Homo sapiens: one gene and its partner. The protein of the gene in region 1 purifies or fractionates together with the protein of each later gene. This does not show direct contact. Each region holds a gene or a part of one and is shown on either strand. Other genes may lie near its edges.

Evidence for each region.
Region 2: the proteins of CNTN2 (region 1) and CNTNAP2 purify together in Homo sapiens (affinity purification with western blotting; 2 studies listed by BioGRID). This does not show direct contact.

Annotation. Positions count from the first base shown.
Region 1 is NC_000001.11:205,058,767-205,069,205, forward strand, and holds part of CNTN2 (contactin-2 precursor), read left to right. Parts: intron 1-317; coding exon 318-527; intron 528-816; coding exon 817-916; intron 917-2,478; coding exon 2,479-2,654; intron 2,655-3,098; coding exon 3,099-3,235; intron 3,236-3,673; coding exon 3,674-3,803; intron 3,804-5,555; coding exon 5,556-5,706; intron 5,707-5,856; coding exon 5,857-5,984; intron 5,985-6,320; coding exon 6,321-6,496; intron 6,497-7,022; coding exon 7,023-7,143; intron 7,144-7,674; coding exon 7,675-7,833; intron 7,834-8,334; coding exon 8,335-8,484; intron 8,485-10,439. UniProt on the Homo sapiens protein: In conjunction with another transmembrane protein, CNTNAP2, contributes to the organization of axonal domains at nodes of Ranvier by maintaining voltage-gated potassium channels at the juxtaparanodal region. May be involved in cell adhesion.
Region 2 is NC_000007.14:146,110,980-146,121,880, forward strand, and holds the start of CNTNAP2 (contactin-associated protein-like 2 precursor), read left to right. Parts: upstream 1-5,821; 5' UTR 5,822-5,897; coding exon 5,898-5,994; intron 5,995-10,901. UniProt on the Homo sapiens protein: Required for gap junction formation. Required, with CNTNAP1, for radial and longitudinal organization of myelinated axons.

The DNA of each region.
Region 1 (10,439 bases):
TAGAAGCACCCATCCCTGGGACCCTAACTTTAAATGATCTGTGTTTCCTTTATAGGTCTGTCACTTTCCATCGTTGTGCCCTGCTTCCGCCTTCAAACTGGGTGGCCCCTGAGGGCTGCGATCCCTGGCAGACTTAGCGCTCCCTGAGGGCAGGAATAAAGTCACTTCTTCCCTCTAGGTCTCCCCTTAGCCCCAGTTCAGAGCATGGTGGCTGTCAGGACAGGGCTTGCAGAACCGCACCAGCATGCTGGGGTCCCACCCAGAGTGGCCCTGTTAGCCCAGCACCCCCTGGTTTCCTCAAACTCCTCACATCCTAGGCTTGTCCTACCGCTGGCTCCTCAACGAGTTCCCCAACTTCATCCCGACGGACGGGCGTCACTTCGTGTCCCAGACCACAGGGAACCTGTACATTGCCCGAACCAATGCCTCAGACCTGGGCAACTACTCCTGTTTGGCCACCAGCCACATGGACTTCTCCACCAAGAGCGTCTTCAGCAAGTTTGCTCAGCTCAACCTGGCTGCTGAAGGTCAGGCTTGGCCAGGCGTGGCTGGAGGGAGGGAACTGGAAGGGTCAGCGGGCATTAGGAAAAGGGTTTTTCCTTTGGAGATTGGAAGATCAGCTTGCAGGGCACTGATTCCAGGCCCTGGACCCCCAGATCCTCCTGCTTCAAATCCTGAGGCCCTTGCCCCAGGCCTCAAGGAGATTCCACACAGCTGCCTAGACAGAGTTGGCTCTGAAAGGTGCTGAGATCCCATGCACGGGAGCACCTGACCTGGAGTCATCTGCATCTGATTTGTAAAACCCTCTCTCCCCAGATACCCGGCTCTTTGCACCCAGCATCAAGGCCCGGTTCCCAGCAGAGACCTATGCACTGGTGGGGCAGCAGGTCACCCTGGAGTGCTTCGCCTTTGGGAAGTGAGTGTGAAGAGGGAGGGGAAGCAGAGCACGGTCTCTCGGGGGCACAGGTGACCCCAGGGTGAGGGCAGGCAGAGTCAGGGCTCTTATCTTGGTGTCCCTCACAGGGTCTAGCAAAGTACTGGGCACACAGTGGGTATCGACCACCACTCACTGGACAGTACCTCTCTGGGTGAGGCATCGCATATGCCAGGGGCCTTCCATGGCCAGGATCACTTGGTCTTCCAGCAGTGCATGGCAGGCTCAGACAGCTTGAGTAACACCCAGGGCTGGAGGCAGGCAGCACAGTGTACAGACTCCAACCCTGTCTGTCTCATTCAGATCCCAGCTCTGCCACCCGCAGACCTTGGGTAAACTGCCTAACCTCTCTGTGCCTCAGTTTCTTTATGGTGGTGATAATAGTACCTACCTCATAGGGTTGTCATGAGGATTAAATCAGTTCATATATGTGAGATACTTAGAACAGTGCCTGGAATTTAGTTAAGTGTTCCGTGAATGTTAACAGTGATCTATTTGAGAATGGCAGCAGAAAGTGTTCTCTTTCTCGTACTCCTAGAAGAAGGAGTCACTAGAACAGGGCTAAGCAAATAGCAGGTGCTCAATAAATGTTTGTAGTATGAAAGAAAGAATGTGATTTGTACTTTGGCCCCCTCCTCCCTCAACTATCTCCTATGGTTACCTGGGAGAATCTCTGCCTTGTGGGAAGTTTTGGGCTTCCAGAAAATCCACATGAAAAGCATGTGGAAGTGGGGCCAGGTGCGGTGGTTCATGTCTGTAATCCCAGCACTTTGGGAGGCCGAGGTGGGAAGATCATGAGGTCAGGAGATCGAGACCATCCTGGCTAGCACGGTGAAATCCAGTCTCTACTAAAAATACAAAAAAAACTAGCCAGGTGTGGTGGCGGGTGCCTGTAGTCCCAGCTGCTCGGGAGGCTGAGGCAGGAGAATGGTGTGAACCCGGGAGGCAGAGCTTGCAGTGAGCCAAGATTGCCCCACTGCACTCCAGCCTAGGTGACAGAGCGAGACTCCGTCTCAAAAAAAAAAAAAAAAAAAGAAAAAAAAGAAAAGCATGTGGAAGGGGAATATATTAACCCATTAAAACTGATACCTCAGTCCGTTTTAGTGCACAGATTACTACTAACTAAAGTCCCTTTCAAAGTAGGGGCAAGGCCTGCCCTGTAGAGGCAACGGAAAAGAGAACCCGTAAAGACCCAGGTCACAGGCCACTGTGGCGGAGGGCAGACCCAGAGGCATGGTGACCGGTGCGGGAGAGGGCAGGCCAGCTTCAGGGTGCAGACCCCGCAGAAGCCCGGCTTCACTGGCTCCAGGGTTGTTGCAGGGGGGATGGGTAGAGCAGCCCTGCCTCTTGCCCCTTCCCTGCGTGTGCTCCGAGCCTACCTGGGAGAGGAGAGTGAGGATCAGCCAGAAGGCACCCTCTCTCCCTCTGTTCCTCCCAGGCCCAGCATCTCAGGAGGGCCTGAGAGTCTGGGTATGAGGAGCTGCGGGCACTGGAGGGGTAGGCCCAGCTCAGCCCACACCCTCTGGCTTTGTCTCTCCTGCCAGCCCTGTCCCCCGGATCAAGTGGCGCAAAGTGGACGGCTCCCTGTCCCCGCAGTGGACCACAGCTGAGCCCACCCTGCAGATCCCCAGCGTCAGCTTTGAGGATGAGGGCACCTACGAGTGTGAGGCGGAGAACTCCAAGGGCCGAGACACCGTGCAGGGCCGCATCATCGTGCAGGGTACAGAGCCAGGGACACCTTCTCCGCCCCTCCCGACCCCCCTTCCCGCCTTCACCCTTGTCCCCAAGGAAACAGACCCAAAAGTCAGGGAGGAGACTGGGAGGCCCCCTGCATGAGCCTGCTTGCCCTAGGACTGCACTGAGTCTGGGACCAGAGGAGGCTAGTGCTGTGGTCACCTCAGAGCTTCAGTCAGGGGTGCAGAAAGCACACAGGAGGCTCCAGAATGATTTAAGTTGCAAAAGCAGCCACTGGCACAGCCACAGAGTGCCAGCTTTCTTGTGCCTCCTTCTTCCGGCCCCCTCCTCTTTGTCCTCTCCATCTCAGAATGCTCATGGCGCCCTCTGCTGTCTGGCACAGGTGCTGCTGCCCTGATTTTCTGTTCCTTTTAATGAGCTGGAAGCTCCTCCTAGCTCATGCCAGGTTTTCTTTTCCGGGCTCCCACAGCTCAGCCTGAGTGGCTAAAAGTGATCTCGGACACAGAGGCTGACATTGGCTCCAACCTGCGTTGGGGCTGTGCAGCCGCCGGCAAGCCCCGGCCTACAGTGCGCTGGCTGCGGAACGGGGAGCCTCTGGCCTCCCAGGTAGGAGACATGGGGCTTCCCCCGACACATCACAACTGTCCTCTGCTCACTTGGTTCCCTCCCCCGCCCAGAACTTCCCCTGCACCACTAGTAGCCCCTCTGGGCTAATTAGGGTGTCAGAGGGTGGTCCTAGGACCACCTAAGGACTTCTTCCCATCCCAGTCCCATTGTCACAGGCTAGGCCTGGATCCAGGCACAGTTCAGCCACAAAAGAAGTGATGTGGTCCTGACTGGGTCACCTCACCCTTCCAGCTTTGGGGAGGCCTGGGTAATCTGCATCCTGAGGTTCCAGGCAGCCCTGAGGTAGGACTGGACATATAAGCCATATCCTCTAGGGATTATCAGCCTAGAGTCTCCACTGCTCCCACCCCTGCCAACCCCTCCTCCCTGTGGCTCCTGTGGTCCTGATCCCCCTGGGCTCTGGGCTCTTCTGCACAGAACCGGGTGGAGGTGTTGGCTGGGGACCTGCGGTTCTCCAAGCTGAGCCTGGAAGACTCGGGCATGTACCAGTGTGTGGCAGAGAATAAGCACGGTACCATCTACGCCAGCGCCGAGCTAGCCGTGCAAGGTAAGGGGCCCAGGGAGGCAGGGGACATCCCAAGGACATGCATATGGTGGCTTTCAGAGCTCTGAGTTTAGGTGTTTCCAAACACACATGCACATACCCTGTGGCCATTTTCCTTGGTTTTCCAACAGTTTCTAAGTAGGAGAACTCAGAGATTTAAGAAAGGAGATGAGACACAGGGTTGACAGCTGCCAGAGGGCAGGGTCTCTGACTTGTTCCATGTCTGGCACACAGTAAATGTTTGCTGCAGTGAGTGAAAAAAACAGAAACCAAATCAATCAGATTTGTGTAACCCAACCCTTTCAGCTATGTGAGCTTTGGCAAGTTACTTAGTGTTTCTGTGTTTCAGTTTCTTGATTATAAAATATAGGCAATAATAGTCCTGCCCTCCTGGGCTGCTGTATGGAACAAGTGAGATGAAAGAGGTACAGCATAAAGGGCCTGCCCACCATACAGCAGGTGCCCGGGAAATGTAAGCCAGTGCTAATATTTAGTTGTGTGACTTGAGCTCACTGAGCCTCAGTTTCCTCATCCATAAAATGGACACAGTGATACCCACCACATCAGGTTTTAGTGAAGCTTTGCTAAGAAGCATTCATTCGTTCCTTCATCCATTCAACCACTACTTACTCAACACTTCACAGGGATGAATATAAAAGATACGGTCTCTGCCTTTAAGTAGCTTACAATCCAGTAGAGGGAAAGGGACAAATAAACCCCAAATCAAACAATTAAATAATTTCAGCTAGCCATCAAATATAGTATAAAGAAAATCCAGGCAGGGTGCAGTGGCTCATGCCTGTGTAATCCCAGCACTTTGGGAGGCAGGGGTGAGTGGATCTCCTCAAGCTCAGGAGTTTGAGACCAGCCTGGGCAACATGGTGAAACCCCATGTCTATGAAAAACACAAAATTTAGCCAGGCATGGTAGCACACACGTGTAGTCCCAGCTACACAGGAGGCTGAGGCAGGAGAATCACTTGAGCCCTGGAGGCAGAGGCTGCAGTGAACTGAGATTGTGCCATTGCACTCCAGCCTGGGCAACACAGCAAGACTTGTCTTTTAAAAAAAAAAAAAGAAGAAGAAAGAAAAGAAAAGAAAAAGAAAGAAAGAAAGAAAGAAAGAAAAGAAAAGAAAACCCAGTAGAGTGATGGGCGTGAGATGGGCCTGTTAGGTGGGGTGGTCAGAGAAGTCCTCTCTGAGGAAGTCTCATTTAGACTGTGACCTGAATGTTAAGAAGCCAGCCGCGTGAAGATCTGGGGAATTTCCAGGCAAGATTTACAGCAAGTGCAAAGCTCTGGAGGCAGGAAAAGACTTCACAACTTCAAAAGAGAGAGAGAGAGAAAAAAAAAGGCTAGGTGATTGGAACATAATGAATGGGGGATAGAGTGGAGCAAGATGCGATTGGAAAGGTGGAGACTTATTTGTGAAGAGCCGGGCTTCACTGAGTGTGAGTTGAAAAAGCTGTTCATTCCCAACTGGGTGGAGAAAAGATTGTAGAAGGAAGGTGCAGAAACAGGAAGACTGATGTGGGGTGGCAGGGGTGGTGGTGAGGGGCGGAGGGGGGGCGCGTTGTCAATAGTCCAGGCGGGAGATTTGATAGCTTAGGCCAGAGAAAAAAGGGCTTGGTTCTGGATGCATTCTGGAAGAGGTGCTAATAGGAGTCACTCATGGCGTGGCTTCAAAGGGCACGCCAAGTAACGTCTTAATCAAGGGTGACAGTACTTTTCTCTGTGGCTCTCCCCTTTCCTTCTAGCACTCGCCCCTGACTTCAGGCTGAATCCCGTGAGGCGTCTGATCCCCGCGGCCCGCGGGGGAGAGATCCTTATCCCCTGCCAGCCCCGGGCAGCTCCAAAGGCCGTGGTGCTCTGGAGCAAAGGCACGGAGATTTTGGTCAACAGCAGCAGGTACCACCCACACCCCACCCTGCACAGTTCCTGCTCCTCCTCATTCTCCATGGAGGCCAATTCCCCTCCTGTGACAACAGTCACAGGAGTTGGCCAGCCCCAGGGACAACCATGCCTGAGTTGGCCACATCTGCCTTGTCCTTGCCACAGAGTGACTGTAACTCCAGATGGCACCTTGATCATAAGAAACATCAGCCGGTCAGATGAAGGCAAATACACCTGCTTTGCTGAGAACTTCATGGGCAAAGCCAACAGCACTGGAATCCTATCTGTGCGAGGTGAGGGCTGCCATGTGGGTAGGCCGGGGGCTCAGCCTCCTCAGGGTACTGTCCTCCCCATCATCCTGCTCCTGTGTCCACATTGCTCCTAGTTTGGTGTCAAGGCCACCCCAGGATTCAGTTTTGCTTGGGACCACCCCCTGGCCACCACTGAGACTCTGGTCATGCCTCCCTGCCTGCCACACACTCATGCAGTCCTGGGCAGTTGGGACCTGTGGGTCACACCACCTCTTCTCTTTGCTGGGCCTTAGGACAGAGCCTCTCAGCCTGCCCTGCGGACCCGGCCTGGGCCCATTTCCTCCCCCATCCACCCAAGGGCCTTGTTTTTCTTGGCAGATGCAACCAAAATCACTCTAGCCCCCTCAAGTGCCGACATCAACTTGGGTGACAACCTGACCCTACAGTGCCATGCCTCCCACGACCCCACCATGGACCTCACCTTCACCTGGACCCTGGACGACTTCCCCATCGACTTTGATAAGCCTGGAGGGCACTACCGGAGAACTAATGTGGTGAGACCTAGGGCCAGAGCCCCATGGCTTCTCCCTCCTTCTAGAGAGACAGGGGCCCCAAGATGTCCTTAGCCATCCTCACCTTTAAGAAACCCATAGCCTAAGCGCCCCCATTCCCTCAGGCCCACACATGGCAAGCTCATCCTTGGATGAACAGCTGACCTTCCTGGATTCCACCCAGGGACCATGCATTTAGGAGAGGGTTAGGGACAAACCTGGAGTTGTGGGCAGCCACCAAGACACTCCCACTACTGTTCTTGTTAGCCTGTCCCCTAGGGCAAATGATATTATTAATGTGGACAGTCATTGACTGTCTCCTGAAACAAACTTTGCTGTTTAGTCCCCAGTGGTTCTAAGTGATGAGTCGTGATTCCTCCCATTGAGCAGACAGGAAAACTGAGATCCAGTGGGGTCCATGGATGTCATGGAGTAGGGGACTCCCAAGCGCTGCCTCATGTCTCATGGCCTGCTGCACTGGTCAGGGCCGGTGGTCTGACCTGCTGCCCCTAACTGTCCCCGTGTGCAGAAGGAGACCATTGGGGATCTGACCATCCTGAACGCCCAGCTGCGCCATGGGGGGAAGTACACGTGCATGGCCCAGACGGTGGTGGACAGCGCGTCCAAGGAGGCCACAGTCCTGGTCCGAGGTGAGGGGTTTCCCACCTCTACCCCTACCCCAACTCCCTTAAAACCCAGCTGGGCTGTTCTGACCTGCTCGCCTCATCTCCCCTCCCTTCCCTCAAAGCTGCGGGGAAGGGCTTCCGGCGGAACTCCTGTGAGCTGGATATACCCTGTGGTTCTTCACAGGTCCTAAATGATCAGGACATTTTTCTTCCAAAGTCAAAGTTTAAAAAATCCACTCCTAAACACATCCCAAGACAGGAGTGCTTTACTGAGCCCTGAAGTTTTCAAAGCCTAGTGCTGGGAGATCTATGCACCTCTCCATGTGACAGCCTCTGTGAGCTCCCCCAGCCTTGAGACACATCCCTCCACCCAACAACTGGCACCCGCCCCAACTGCCCACACCCCTTGCCCGCCCTCCCGCCTGGGTGTGTGTTCACTGCATCCTCTGCTGCCCTGTCTTGGTACTGTACCAGCTCAAGCCTGGCTGGGAGGAGGTTGGCTCAAATTGGAAGCTGCCCAATTCTGACCCACTGTGCTCTGACCTCTTGGTGCAGGTCCGCCAGGTCCCCCAGGAGGTGTGGTGGTGAGGGACATTGGCGACACCACCATCCAGCTCAGCTGGAGCCGTGGCTTCGACAACCACAGCCCCATCGCTAAGTACACCCTGCAAGCTCGCACTCCACCTGCAGGGAAGTGGAAGCAGGTTCGGACCAGTAAGTGTGAGCCCCACCTGGGTCAGTGCTGATAAGGCTCGACTGGGTGTAGGAGGTGGAAAGGGTCAAGGTTTGGGGATCGGGGTCTGAGGGCCAGGGCTGAGCCTGGAGCTTCAAAGAGGGACAAGATCTGTCCTCTGCCAGCAGAGAGCATGCAGGCAGGCAGGAAGACAGTCACACAGAAAGTAGGAGAGTCGGGAAAGAGTTAGAAGAGGAGGCGCTTGGTCTATGCCCTTGAAGAATTGGTAGGATTGTTACTGGAGCAATGAAAATATTCATGGGGACATAGGGGCGTAGGCGTGCACACAGCATTGCAGAGGCACCAAGATAGGGAAATTGAGTAGTTTTTCAATCATTTCTGAAAAAGGTACTGAGTGCTTAGTATATGGCAAGTACCGAAGTGAGGGCTGGGTAGATAAGGGGTGATTCAGGCCAGTGCCTGCCCTCTGCACCCAGATGAATAAGCGAATGCTGGAATATGGACTCCCTGGTGCCTTGCAGATCCTGCAAACATCGAGGGCAATGCCGAGACTGCACAGGTGCTGGGCCTCACCCCCTGGATGGACTATGAGTTCCGGGTCATAGCCAGCAACATTCTGGGCACTGGGGAGCCTAGTGGGCCCTCCAGCAAAATCCGGACCAGGGAAGCAGGTGAGAGTCCTGTGTGTCCCAAAAAGCTATCATCAGGGCAGAGACCCTGGCACCACTTATAGGGAATGCCAAGCCAGCCGCAATTATGCTGAGTTCCAACCCTGCTCACAGGGTTCAGACTCTCACAAAACAGAGGAGGACAGAACACCAAGTTGGGACCAGGGCCACTGCATGGACAAACCATCTAGTCCAAACTCCTCATTTAAAAACTGGCCAACCTTACAACTGCATGTGCATCTATAATTTTTTTAAGTTTAATTTTTAAAAGTGGAAAAACCAAAGTTCGGAGAAAGGAAGAGTCACATTGACAGAGCTTGGACTTGAACCCAGGACCATGGGGTGGTAGACAGATGTCTTCCTGGAAGAGTATGCACTACAGAAATCAGTTAATGCTGGCTGGGCGCAGTGGCTCAAGCCTGTAATCCCAGCACTTTGGGAGGCCGAGGCAGGCAGATCACCTGAGGTCAGAAGTTTGAGACCAGCCTGGCCAACATGGTGAAACCCCGTCTCTACTAAAAATACAAAAATTAGCCAGGCGTGGTGACACACACCTGTAAATCCCAGCTACTCGGGAGGCTGAAGCAGGAGAATCGCTTGAACCCGGGAGGTGGAGGTTGCAGTGAGCCAAGATTGTACCACTGCACTCCATCCTGGGCGACAGAGCGAGACTCCATCTCAAAAAAAAAAAAAAAAAAAAAAAAAAAAGAAAGAAAAAAAGGAAATCAGTTGATGTGAAAGATGTGTGTGTGTTCTGTGCAGGGGGCTAGGGAAGCAGCCAGTGTCTCCAAGCCTTTAGATGGTTTCTTTGGGAGCAGATGGAATTGAATAACCTGCCCACAACCCTCAGCAAAAAGCGTGTGGGTGTCAGAACTTGAGTGGAGAAGGAGGGGGAGAAAAGAACCCAGGAGAGAGTAGGGGAGGCACAGGCTCCAGTCAGCATCTGCTGAGAGGCTCCTGCCCATCTCCGAGCCATTCGCAGGGGAAGGCCTGGAATGAGAGCCCGGGGATCCTGGGACCAGGAGCATAGATTAAGGACCCTGCCTCACCTCCTCTACAGACCTGTTGCACTGGATGTGTAGTGAGGGTCCACCTTCTTGTCTGCCTGAAACATGTTCTCCTACATGCCCCAGACTGACTCTCCAGGCCCTTTTTCTAGAATCACTCAACATTTTTAGCTGGTACCTCTCCTGAGTAAGAAATTCCAGAGGCAGCACTTTCTTTGATTGATCCTGAACTTCTTGGAGGGTCAAATGTGGAGAAATGAGGGGACTCCTTTATTCTATTTACAGCATCCCAGTAGCTGAGGAGCACAAAGACAGCTGTGATGCAAAGGAAACATGATGGGCTTTAAAATGAGAAGGGCTGAGTTCAGATTCTACCTGTGCCATGTATTAACTGTGTGACCTTAGGCAAGTTGATTAACTGCTCTGGGCCTCAGTCTTTCCACCCTGAAAAGGGCAATAATAACACCCACCTCACAGGATCAAATGGCCAATGTGTTTAAGTACCTCTTGCAAATTACACGGTCCTAAACTATTGTCATCAGAAGCAAGTGAAAAATCTCCAGCTGCTGGATTCTCTACGGAAATATTTTGACCCCCAGCCAAGTTACTTTCTGCCAAGCTGCAGGAGCTGATGAAATAAATTCCTGTTTTAATATCAGCCTTGTTTAATACTAGAGACAATTAGGAGATTAAATCTGCAACAAAAAGAAAAATAGATAATATATCACCCTGGAGCCCAAAAGTAGTTTGTTTTGTTTGTTTGTTTGTTTGTTTGTTTGTTTGTTTGTTTGCATTAACTGCAGTTCTGGGTTATTTATTCCCCTTATTTTAAAGCGAGTGAGAGTTGGTCTCTGTGATTTAGTTTAAGTTGATGGAGTAAGGAGGACAATGATCATGTGTGCATCATCTGCTCTATACTAACCACCGTCTTGTCTAATTTCATTCTCATTA
Region 2 (10,901 bases), on another chromosome or scaffold:
AAAACTTCACACAATCTGCTGTTAAAGTAGTAATAGCATACATCTCTAAATTCAGACTAAGATACTTTCCACAGCCTAGCTACTCATGTCACAAATTTCACACAAAAGTCAGCAAAATCTGCATTCGCCTATGTGATTTAGACACATTACTCAATTCTATCAAATCAAATGACCTGAGTTATAAAATCTAAAGGTCTTTAAGCCCTTGCCCATAAGACTGTGCTTCATAAATGTACTCAACAGCCTTCCTATTATAGTTTAGTATTTTGCATTAAAACAAACCTTTGATGATAAATTGCAAACTGTGAGCTGGTTATACTGTAACAAGTCCTACTTCCTGCTGCAGGCAGTCTACTTTGGGTAGCCATACTGATTAGACCAACTACCCTCCAACTTAATCCTGGATTTTTTCAGGAAACAATCCACTCATAAACTTGAATATTTCAGCAGCAACCACTTCTGGAACTGCAATTCTGAGAGCCTGACTGCCTCTCTGTAACCAGCCTGTAACGCTGAAAGGCCTTTTTCTCCCCTCTCCTTCATCTCCTGAAACTACTGCTTTAGGAAATGGGTCCTCCTTGTTGCTTAGACAGTCTGTACATCTATAACATAAGGTCTAGTCTCAATGGAGTAGTAATACTTTAATGCTTAGAATAATTTTAAACAACTCTATTTTTCTCTCTTTTAATTGAAACAAAGATAATTTTCAAAATCTTAAGAAGTGATCTTTGTTGGAAAATATGTACTTCAGTTCACAAGCCCCACATCTTGCCTTATGTTTCTATAGACCTTACTTTCTCATAGTTCTTTCAAATTCCAAATATATTTCCAAAATTTTATTCCAATATGCATTTTATTTTTTCACACTGCTTTCACATTAATATATAAATTGATCTTAATGTTCAGACAATTTGACATAACTTCTCATTGATAAAAGATTTTTTCTAATCCAGAAAAAAATCTAAATGGTTTTTCAATATGAATTTATTGAGGGATAAACTTAAGATTCTAGAACTTCAGTTTAGAACTTTGAGGTATATTAATTTATCTGGATAATAATAATAGTACTGGTAGTTAATCTATAGAGAACACTTTCTGTGCCTGGTATAATATATAAATTATGTTTAATTCCCAAAATAATCAAGTTTTATGGGTATAAATACTACTCTGATCTTATAGGTGAGAAAATGAAAGCATCCAGTGTGCGGGTAAGGTCACACAAAGAGTTTGTAGGCCAATACACAAATCCCAGAGACCAGGCTCAATTTCCACTCTAACTTGCTTCCTGAATGACCATCTGGTTCTTCCTAATTTCTATGTGATTATGACACTCAAAAGAAATTCACTTAAAATCTGGGCAACAGAGCTGCGCTGTGACCCCCACCTCACCCCGCAGAACATGAAGAATGCAATAAATATTAAGGTCAAGTTTTATATTCTAAATTTACAAATTAGTTTAACTATTTTTCCTCCCAGTTTCTTATATTAATTGAAAGTATGTTTACCAGTGCATTAAGACCACCCTTTGCTGACTTTACCTTTCCTACTAACATTAAACAGCCAAAACATGAATTGTTTCTTTAGCAATATATTCAAGGTGTTTAATCCAAATAACACTCGGTATCATGCATTTCCCTGAGACCTTTAAAATAAAGTGAAATTTTGGAAATCCCTTTAAGTTTATGCATCTTCCTCAGTATGTCATTCCAATTGATACTTGATTATGATATGAAGTATCTCAGAGTGCCCAGGGACAATTAGCAGGGCTAAAGGACCAAAATCCAGGTAGATTTTTCAGCTCACCAGAGGTTTTACTATGGGACTCTACTTTATCCTGTTCATGCTCACTAAAGAATAACATTCCAGACAGCTTGTATATTTTCAGAGAAGCAGGTGCTAAAGCCTTCTTAGAGGGTGCAATCAGACTGGCAAATGTATCTACTCTAATTTGGCCGATTTTTCAGCAGGCATTCACTGATTTCTGGGCATAGTTGGACAGCTCCCTTTACAGAAGGAAATTCTACTCCAAGGCACTCACCTAGACATATACCAATTTTTTTTAACCTATTGAAAATTCCTGAATTTTTCCAGTGCTTCATGCAATCACTTCAAAGTGTTAAGATTGAAATATTTTGACTCTTTTTTTTCACTTAAGTTCCAAAATTTGGGCAGACTTTTGAGATAATTTACATTGTGGCAGACTATTTACAGAACTCTGGAATAATAATGATGATTGTGATAAAAATAATTTTTATATTTGTTGAGAATATTAATTTTAAGAATGTATTAAGATATTGGAAAAAAAGAGCCAGTCAAGATTTACTTGAATTAATGTTAGCATAAAGATGATATGGACTTATTTTGGTCCGTTTATTCAACCACTCACTACCAGTGTAATATCCATCTTGGTCATAGGCATAAACTCTATGTAGCATAATGCCAAACCCAATAATAGTAGATATTCAATTAATATTGGGGATGCAAATGAAGAATGTGTATACTGCTAATGAAGTCACTACTCATGGGATCAAGCTAACATTTTTTAAAAATCTGTTGAAGTAAAGAGGATGTGAGCAGTGGGAAAGAGAAAATGTCTATTCTTTATTATTTTCCATTGCTCTACTTCCAAAATAATGCAAATTGCCCACTGTCTTTTCTGGTCATGCTGTGCATTTGGGGGAGGTGGGGCTGGGGTGGGGGGGCCGGTGGGTGGGTTTGTGTGTGTGTACCGTTGGTCCACTTAGTTTTACTACTTTCAAGCTTTAATTGACCTTACTTCCAACTAAGGAGACATATGTTCAAATCATTATTAGCTGTCTTCAATTATTTGCAAACATCAATGTAATATAGAAATCAATAATGAATTCACTCTCAGAAACAAGAAATTTCATGCTTATCATATCTACTAGACATCTGGTTGGACTGTTGTAAGTCCATTGACTGGATTACCAGTTTTGCTGGACCGTGTAGTTTGACCAGAACAAACAGACTTACTAATTCCTACCTTCTCACTAAAAGTCATAGTGATAACTGAAGGAAGAAGAAGCTTAATTCTAAATTCTAATTGTAATAATGATGAAAATATAAACTCTAATGGAGTTGGATAGGAAGAACATAGCATTATACTCTAGGGAGTCTCTGATCTGGCAACAATTAAAGTCTTAAGACTTTAAGTATTTTGAGTTCCAGATGTCCATATCTAATTAACACAAATTGAAGGCAGAGGTAGTTGTGTTACAAATGATGTGACATAACTTTCAAACCTGACAAAGTGCATTGAAAACAGATTAAAGCAGGCTCTTAGCTCATACTGGCATGAAATAAGACCATCCTATATGGCACAGAGGTGGTGCAGGTATTTACATGTGTTATTAAATTGAGTTTTGTTGTTTCTCATTAGGAGAAATTACTACAAACTGATCAGAATGCTCTTTGGAGAAGAATACACCCTCAGGTATATCATTTTCTGTTACAAAATAATTAAATAGATGTCTATTGCATGTCTTTTAGTTTGGTAATCTGGGAAATGGAATTGTTTCAGTTCTGCTTGAGATACCCATGGAATAGCATTCATTGAGTTACTGAAATGGTAATACTTTCAATCGCTGCCTTTTTTCTTCTATTGAAAATACTTTAATGCTATGTTATTGGAGTTCAGTATGATAGTTAAAATGGAGAGGCATAGTTAAATAATAGATTGTTCTGAAAAGTTACGCTTTCTGACAGTTTTTTTTTTTCCTATGACTTGTTTCTTTGAGCTCTTAGAAATGGCTGATGGCAGTTCTTTACTGGAGTGTTTTGGCAAGTGGTCATTGACTTTTGACAGTCTGTGATAATTCAAACAGCAAAGGGACATTTTATAATCCATAAGAATGCATTTGCTGTATTATTTTACAGGAGGAGTATTTTATAGAATGAGGAGGCAGTTCACCTCCCATTAGTCATCTGTGTGTTTCTTCATTTTCCATATTGTACCCAATCTGCAGTTCTTACTAGGACAAAGCATCCTTTTAAATTAACAAGAAACAAAGATCAAATAAAAAGCGCTGAATCAGACCCATTAACACCATATTAATTATGCAGTGAATACACAGTACTATTTACAGTGGACCTTTCTAAGACCAAACAATGATGTTAAAAACTCAGTTTATTCCAGGATTAGGCAAGCCTCCATAAATTTTCTATTTATCTTTAAATGCAAATGCTTATTCATTGCATAACATCGAAAGACATGGTTACTCCTACTTAGTCCTCCACAAACATCATTAGATATTTAGATGACCAATAATTTTTAATTGTGTCAATAAAGTCAGTGGAATGCTTGGCTCTGCAGAGACATAAGAATTCAAATACTTTAAGTAGACTAGATGGAAGAAAAACATATGGAGGGTAGAGTGTGAAGAGCTGTGAGCTGGGGAGAAGAGCTTGATAATTATTATTAAAATTATCTAAATGTGAAAAAATCTAGGTCTCTCTAAACATTCTTAATTCTTAGTGCTTGCAATGCCTCAGGTACCTTGAAATAGTTACCCATATGCCTGCTTATGTATTTCCGTTTTGTGTTTGTGTTTGTATGCGTGTTTGCCTAAGTGTAGTTTCTCCTGGCAGCAGCGTGTGTTTGGTGTACGTGTGCATATGTATGAGTACGAATTAATTACATATCGAAAACATGTGCATTAACGGCATCTGCAGTCCTCCCTCCCTGCTCCAGTCAGTCGGGATGTTTAGCACCGTCACTTGGTGTTAGGACCACTCGGAAGACCTGCCTGTCGGACGCCTGACTGTGGTTCCCGGGGGGCCGGAGCTCCAGGAGCCTGTACCATCTTTATCTGAAGGGGAGGAGAGAAGGAAAGGAGAAGGCATCCGAGCGAGGGTGTTCTCCTTCCTGCAGCCGGGTAGGGGGCAGCCAGGTTTGGAGCAGGGTTCTAGGATTACACGGCAAATCCCCAACTTCAGCACCGCGGACAGCATCACCTCCCGCCCAGGGAGAGGCGCGCGCCTCCTTGCTCCGCCCCCGCCCCAGCTGATGGACCCCGGCCGGTCGGCTCAGTCTCCCTTTTGCTTTCAAACGAGGCCAGGGCAGGGCAGAAGGGTTTTGACAGCCAGAGGGGTACGGTAAGGAGGAGGAAGAGGAGGAGGAGGCGGAGGAGGAGGAGGAGCCGAGGAGGGAACCGAGAAGGGAAGAGAAGGGAGGGCTTCCCTCCGCCTCGCTCGCCGCCCGGGCTCACAGGAGCTGGCGGCGGCGGCGGCGGCGGCGGCGTCTCCTGCTCTCCGCGGCTGTTGCTGCTGCTCGCGCTCCGCCGCCCGGGAGATGCTTCCTCGCGCGGCGCAGCGCTGAGGCCGTGCGTGCGCCCCGGCTGCGCTGCGCGCTCCCCACATACACAAGCTCTCCATGTGAGCTGACAGGCGAGTGGAAACCCCTCGAGTCACGCTGCCCGGCGGCGGAGGGAGCGCTCGCCCGCAGTGGCAACAGCTGCACCACCGTCCCCGTCGCTCTGCCTTCCTCTTCTGCAGCCTCTGCTCTTCTGATTACCTCCCTCCCCCGTCCTTTGGTGATTTTTTTTTTTCAAGAAGGAGAGGGCGGGGTAGGTGTCCGTTCCCTCCCCTCTTCCCCCTCCTTTGCCTTCTTGGTTTGAATTTCCTCCCCCGGCGTTGCACTGGCACACAGTGCAAGAGGCAATACCCGCACGGAGGGAGAACGAAGGCTGAGACTCCCCTGCCGCTCCAAGCCCGGAAGAACTGGAGCCTGGAGGGGGGTGAGGGGAGAAGAGGAAGCGGGAGGGGCTTGGCTTCCTCGCGTATTTGAGGACAGCCCATCTCCCTTCAAGAACCCTACGGAGAGTCGGACTGCATCTCCGCAGCGAGCTCTTGGAGCGCCGCCGGCCGGGAGGCGAAGGATGCAGGCGGCTCCGCGCGCCGGCTGCGGGGCAGCGCTCCTGCTGTGGATTGTCAGCAGCTGCCTCTGCAGAGCCTGGACGGCTCCCTCCACGTCCCGTAAGTAGCCGTCTCCTCGCTCTGCTCTGGAGCAGTTTCAGTGCGGCATTGATGTTTGGCACCAGGGTATCAACTCCGAAGTGCATCGCAGTGCTGGCACCCTGATGTGTTTGTGTCTCCGCTGTCACACACTTGCAGCCACTGCAGTAGACAAACTCGAAACCCAGCGTTTCTGTTTTGGAAGAGACAGGGTTGTGACGCTGGTGATGTTTCTGGAAAGTTGTTCCTGGTCTTGGTGATCGGTTGGCAAGAGCTTGGCTAGAGAGACTGATGTAGATGGCAGCTTCTTAGGAGTTGTTTGTGCAGGGAGAGTTAACTGCATTTGGCTTAGGTAGGTCAGTGAATGAAAAGTGAAGACCATGGCAAAACCAAGTTTCTTATTTTTATTTATGGTTATAACTTAATGAGCACGGGGTTGAGGTTAACAAGAGGAGCATGTTTTAAACAGTTTGGGCACCTATAGGGTCTCTTTAACCTCTCCCGTTCCCTTAAAAAGTTAATGCCCATTTAGTACTTGCTTATTAAAATGGAAGGCAGCGAAATTGTAACTGAAATTGCTTTAATTCTTTGATACTTTGATATCATGGATATGACTGATGCAGTACGGTACTTGGGACACTCAGTGCAAAGCGTCGTTAATGTAGTAATAAACAGATTCTTAATAGGGTTTTCAGGAAAATAATTATATTCAATATGTATATCTCTGCATTTTAATCAACTGTGTGTGTGTGTTTGTGTGTGTGTGTGTTTAAGACTGCCCCTGTTTTCATGAGGTTTAGAAAGAAATGGAAGATTCTGGCCCATTTTCTGCATTCCTTTAGAAGTGCATACTGTGCATGTAGAGAGGAAATGCATGATTGTTCCTTTGGTTCAGAAAGAGTTAAACACTAGAAAGACTGCCTATAGGAATCTTAGGATAATATTCATAAGCGCATACTAGTTTCTGAGAATGAGTAAGTTGATAAAGAATTATCGTGGAGATTTCAGAGTTTAAAAGGAAGATTTTTTTGTCCATTTAGGAAAAGAAAAGTTTAATATTTTCCAGAATTCGTCATATGCGAAGTAGTCTTTGTTTCTAAGATTTTGGGATGTATTAATGCATCTTTGTTAATAATGATCTTATTGTAGTGGTAAATATCAACAGGAATAGCATTGAAAAAGGACATTATAAGTTGTAATAAGGAATCTACTATATAATATCCGGTTATGAGCCAGTATTACTGTTTTGACATATCTTCCTAAGTACAGTATTAGCTTTTCTTTTCCCACAATGTGTAAAGATAAGGAGATAAACTAACTGGCAATCTAAGTTTGTAATGAACTTGAAAACATTGTATAGCATTTTTTATAACACAAGTTAAATCACAAAGAGTTAAATATTGTTAATATTTATGTCAATTTTATAAATTTAAACAAATTTTGGGGATATAATGCTTGCTGTTGATATTTACACAAATATGTAACTCTATCACTGGGAAACTAGTTTGATGAAATTTCTGTTTCCATTTCAAGGTCTGGTTGTATAGAATTTCCTGCCACTTTTCCTGGAAAATAAACTCCTCATATATTAAATTTATTATATTCACTGATTGAAGGTCCTCATATCCAGGGTTTTTCCTGGGTTCTGTGTTCCATCATTCTGTATACTTTAATTTTGATGGGTCCATCTGAAACATCTGCCATGAGTAGCAAATGGAACACTGGCAGCCCTTGGGTTAATGCATTTTAAGATAAAAAAGTTGTTATTTCATAAATATTTTCTGAGTTTTCAACTTTATAGTTAGAATTTGAAGACAGAGAACATAGAAACAATTACTTTTAAGATGGTTAATAGTTATGGCCATTAAGATTTTTTATTAACTTGGCTTTCATTCTCTATTGTTTAAAAATGTGTAATGGCTTAATTAAGGTGGCTTTTTATTTCGTTTGAATTTAAACTGTGTGACCAAAATGCAAAGTTGCCCTATATCCTGGAAATGAATTAAATAATAAGGATGCTACAGAACTTTATTGATTAGAATGAGTTTCATGGATTCAGTACTTTAAATATCAACTGTACTTTACATTAATGAACATTTTTATTTACATTATATATAGCTCTGAAGAAAAGTATGATAGTTATATTCTTAATATAAAACATTCAAAGGAGAAAAAGATGGAAACTACATGAATCTAAGATAATGAGCAACTCAACCAGGAGAGGTCATCACAAGACAAAAAGTAGCATGAAAATCTAAAACTATCATTTTTCTTTGGTACACATTTTTAAAATGTGATGAGTATGCTAAAACTTTCTGTTCCTAAATACCTTTTTAATATGAGGGACAGAAGATGTTTATTTCACAACAACTGCATTTCAAATATGTATTTGCTTATGACTTATTTCTTTTTCTCTGTCGACAGACATATAAAAACTGTTAATACTATGTGTTGTACAAGCAGACTAGAATAAACTTGAAAACAAAGCTCATCACTATGGTTATGTAAAAATATAATCTAATTTCTTTGCAGATAGCGAAAATGAACTGCTGCTGAGCTGATGTAACAAATCGTGTATCTTCCCTTCCTGTAAATGTAGATACACGGGACACACGTGGGAAGTTTAAAGAAAATATTTCACTCTTAGGGAGTTGCATTTATTTGAACATATTATAAAGACCTTGATGGTGCAGTTCTAAATGATGAGGAGATTAAGCTAGCGCTTAATAAATTCACTTTTTAGAGTTAACTGAATTTTCACTTAAATAAATGATCTCTCATAAAGGCCAATTTACATCATTTAGTAGAACTATTAACCTATAATTTCATTGACCAACACATTTGGGAAATGTGTTTTGAATTAATTCACATATTCTCTAACAAATACGATTTTATACGTGTATATATACACACACATGAATATATATGTGTATAAATATATATGTATTTGTTCATATGTTTTATAAAAACATTTGAATACATGTTATAAAGTACATAGATACATATTTAATATAGCACATATATTAAGTATTATATGTAAAAATGTGTATATTTATATATTTTCTAAAACACCATTCAAGGAATTTAAGTTGTTTACAAGTTTATAGAAAGGTCTTTTTCCAGTGCAATTATTTTAAGTAACTAACGCAACAATATTAAGCAATAGTATATTAGTCTATTTTCTCTTCCTCAATTCATATACTTCTCCCAAAATGGTGTATTTTAAATGTAAAATATGTAAATGCATATAAAAGCAAATACTGCTGGTTTATAGAGACCTTGAACATAATAATGAACTTGTCTTAATGAAAACAATTTAAACTTAAAAGGAGCTTTAGGCAAGCAAAATTCATTGGTTGATAAAGCATAGCACATTATTTGCTTAATGCAACTAATAATTATTAACTAATTGGAGAGAAATGTATAATCTCGATTTTATTATAGGCACGGATATTCAGGAAGTAAGAATCATTGTTCAAATTTTACTCTTTACCATCAATATATGGCAAAATTGGGCAAAAAAATTAATCCACAAATTTAATTTAGGTCTTATTAACCTTTATGCAGTTATAAACCTACAACGTATCATTTTAGATGATATCAAAGTTGTTTGGTGCATATCATATTTTAAATCTTACAGTTATGTGCCCCATAATGACATTTCAGTTCAATGATGGACCACGTGTATGTTGGTGGTTCCATAAAATTATAATGGAGCTGTCATATATAGGTGTGCCATTTTTCATCTTGTATATTATATTTTTACTGTATCTTTTCCATGTTTAAGTATGATGAGATACACAAAGAGGCATTGTGTTATAATTGCCTATAGTATTCAGTGTAATAACATGCAGTACAGGTTTGTAGCCCAGAAGCAACAACCCATACCAAATAGTCTATGCTATGTGTGTAGTAGGCTACACTGTCTAGGTTTGTGAGTGTGTACTCTATGATGTTGGCACAAAGACAAAATTGCCTAAGGATACATTTCTCAAAATATATCCTTATTGTTAGGAAATGCATGATGATATATGTTTTTTGTCTATTTTAAGTGGGAAAACCTTTCAAGTTCTATAATTTCTTTGAGATTTAATTCACTGTTCCTTATTAGTAAATTCTTCTAGACAAAAACTTACTCAAATGTCTTAAAGTTTACATAAAGCTTCCTTTTTTTTTTTTTTTTTTTTTTTTTTTGAGACGGAGTCTTGCTCTGTCGCCCAGGCTGGAGTGCAGTGGCCCGATCTCAGTTCACTGCAAGCTCCGCCTCCTGGGTTCACGCCATTCTCCTGCCTCAGCCTCCCGAGTAGCTGGGACTACAGGCGCCCACCACCATGCCCGGCTAATTTTTAGTCTTGTGAATCTTTTTTATGATTGAAAGAGAAGAAATGTGACATGTCTACACATGTCATCTGTTTTTAAAAAGTAGATTTTTGTATTTGTTGTAAATGGTATACAGAATCAGGAGAGAATCTAGGCTCAGAAATTCTTAATTCAAATGTGCTTTTCTTTAAAATATTAAACATATGGAGATCCAACTTGTGCAAGTTGTCTGTTTAGTGATTGATGTCAGTGGGATGAAGAAATAAAACATGTACTTTAAAGATTTTCCCATCTCTAGTCCTGATTTGTGAAGTGCTTTACTTTATCATTTTTTACTACTTGCAAAGTTATAAAACAGCGTATATAGTAATTTTAAGCCTCAAAACCAGTGTTGTGTGAAATAAAATAAATTTTTATATTTATATCTGTACCAGTATCTGAAACTGGCTGTTACCTGTTTCTAGAGAGACACATATTTTAAGATAAGTAGTTATCAGAAACATAAGGTATATTTCTACAACCAGTATTGGGCTGCTGAAATAAATTATATGCTTATTTTTGCCATTTTAATAAGTAAGAATAATGATGCAATCATTTATATACAGCTG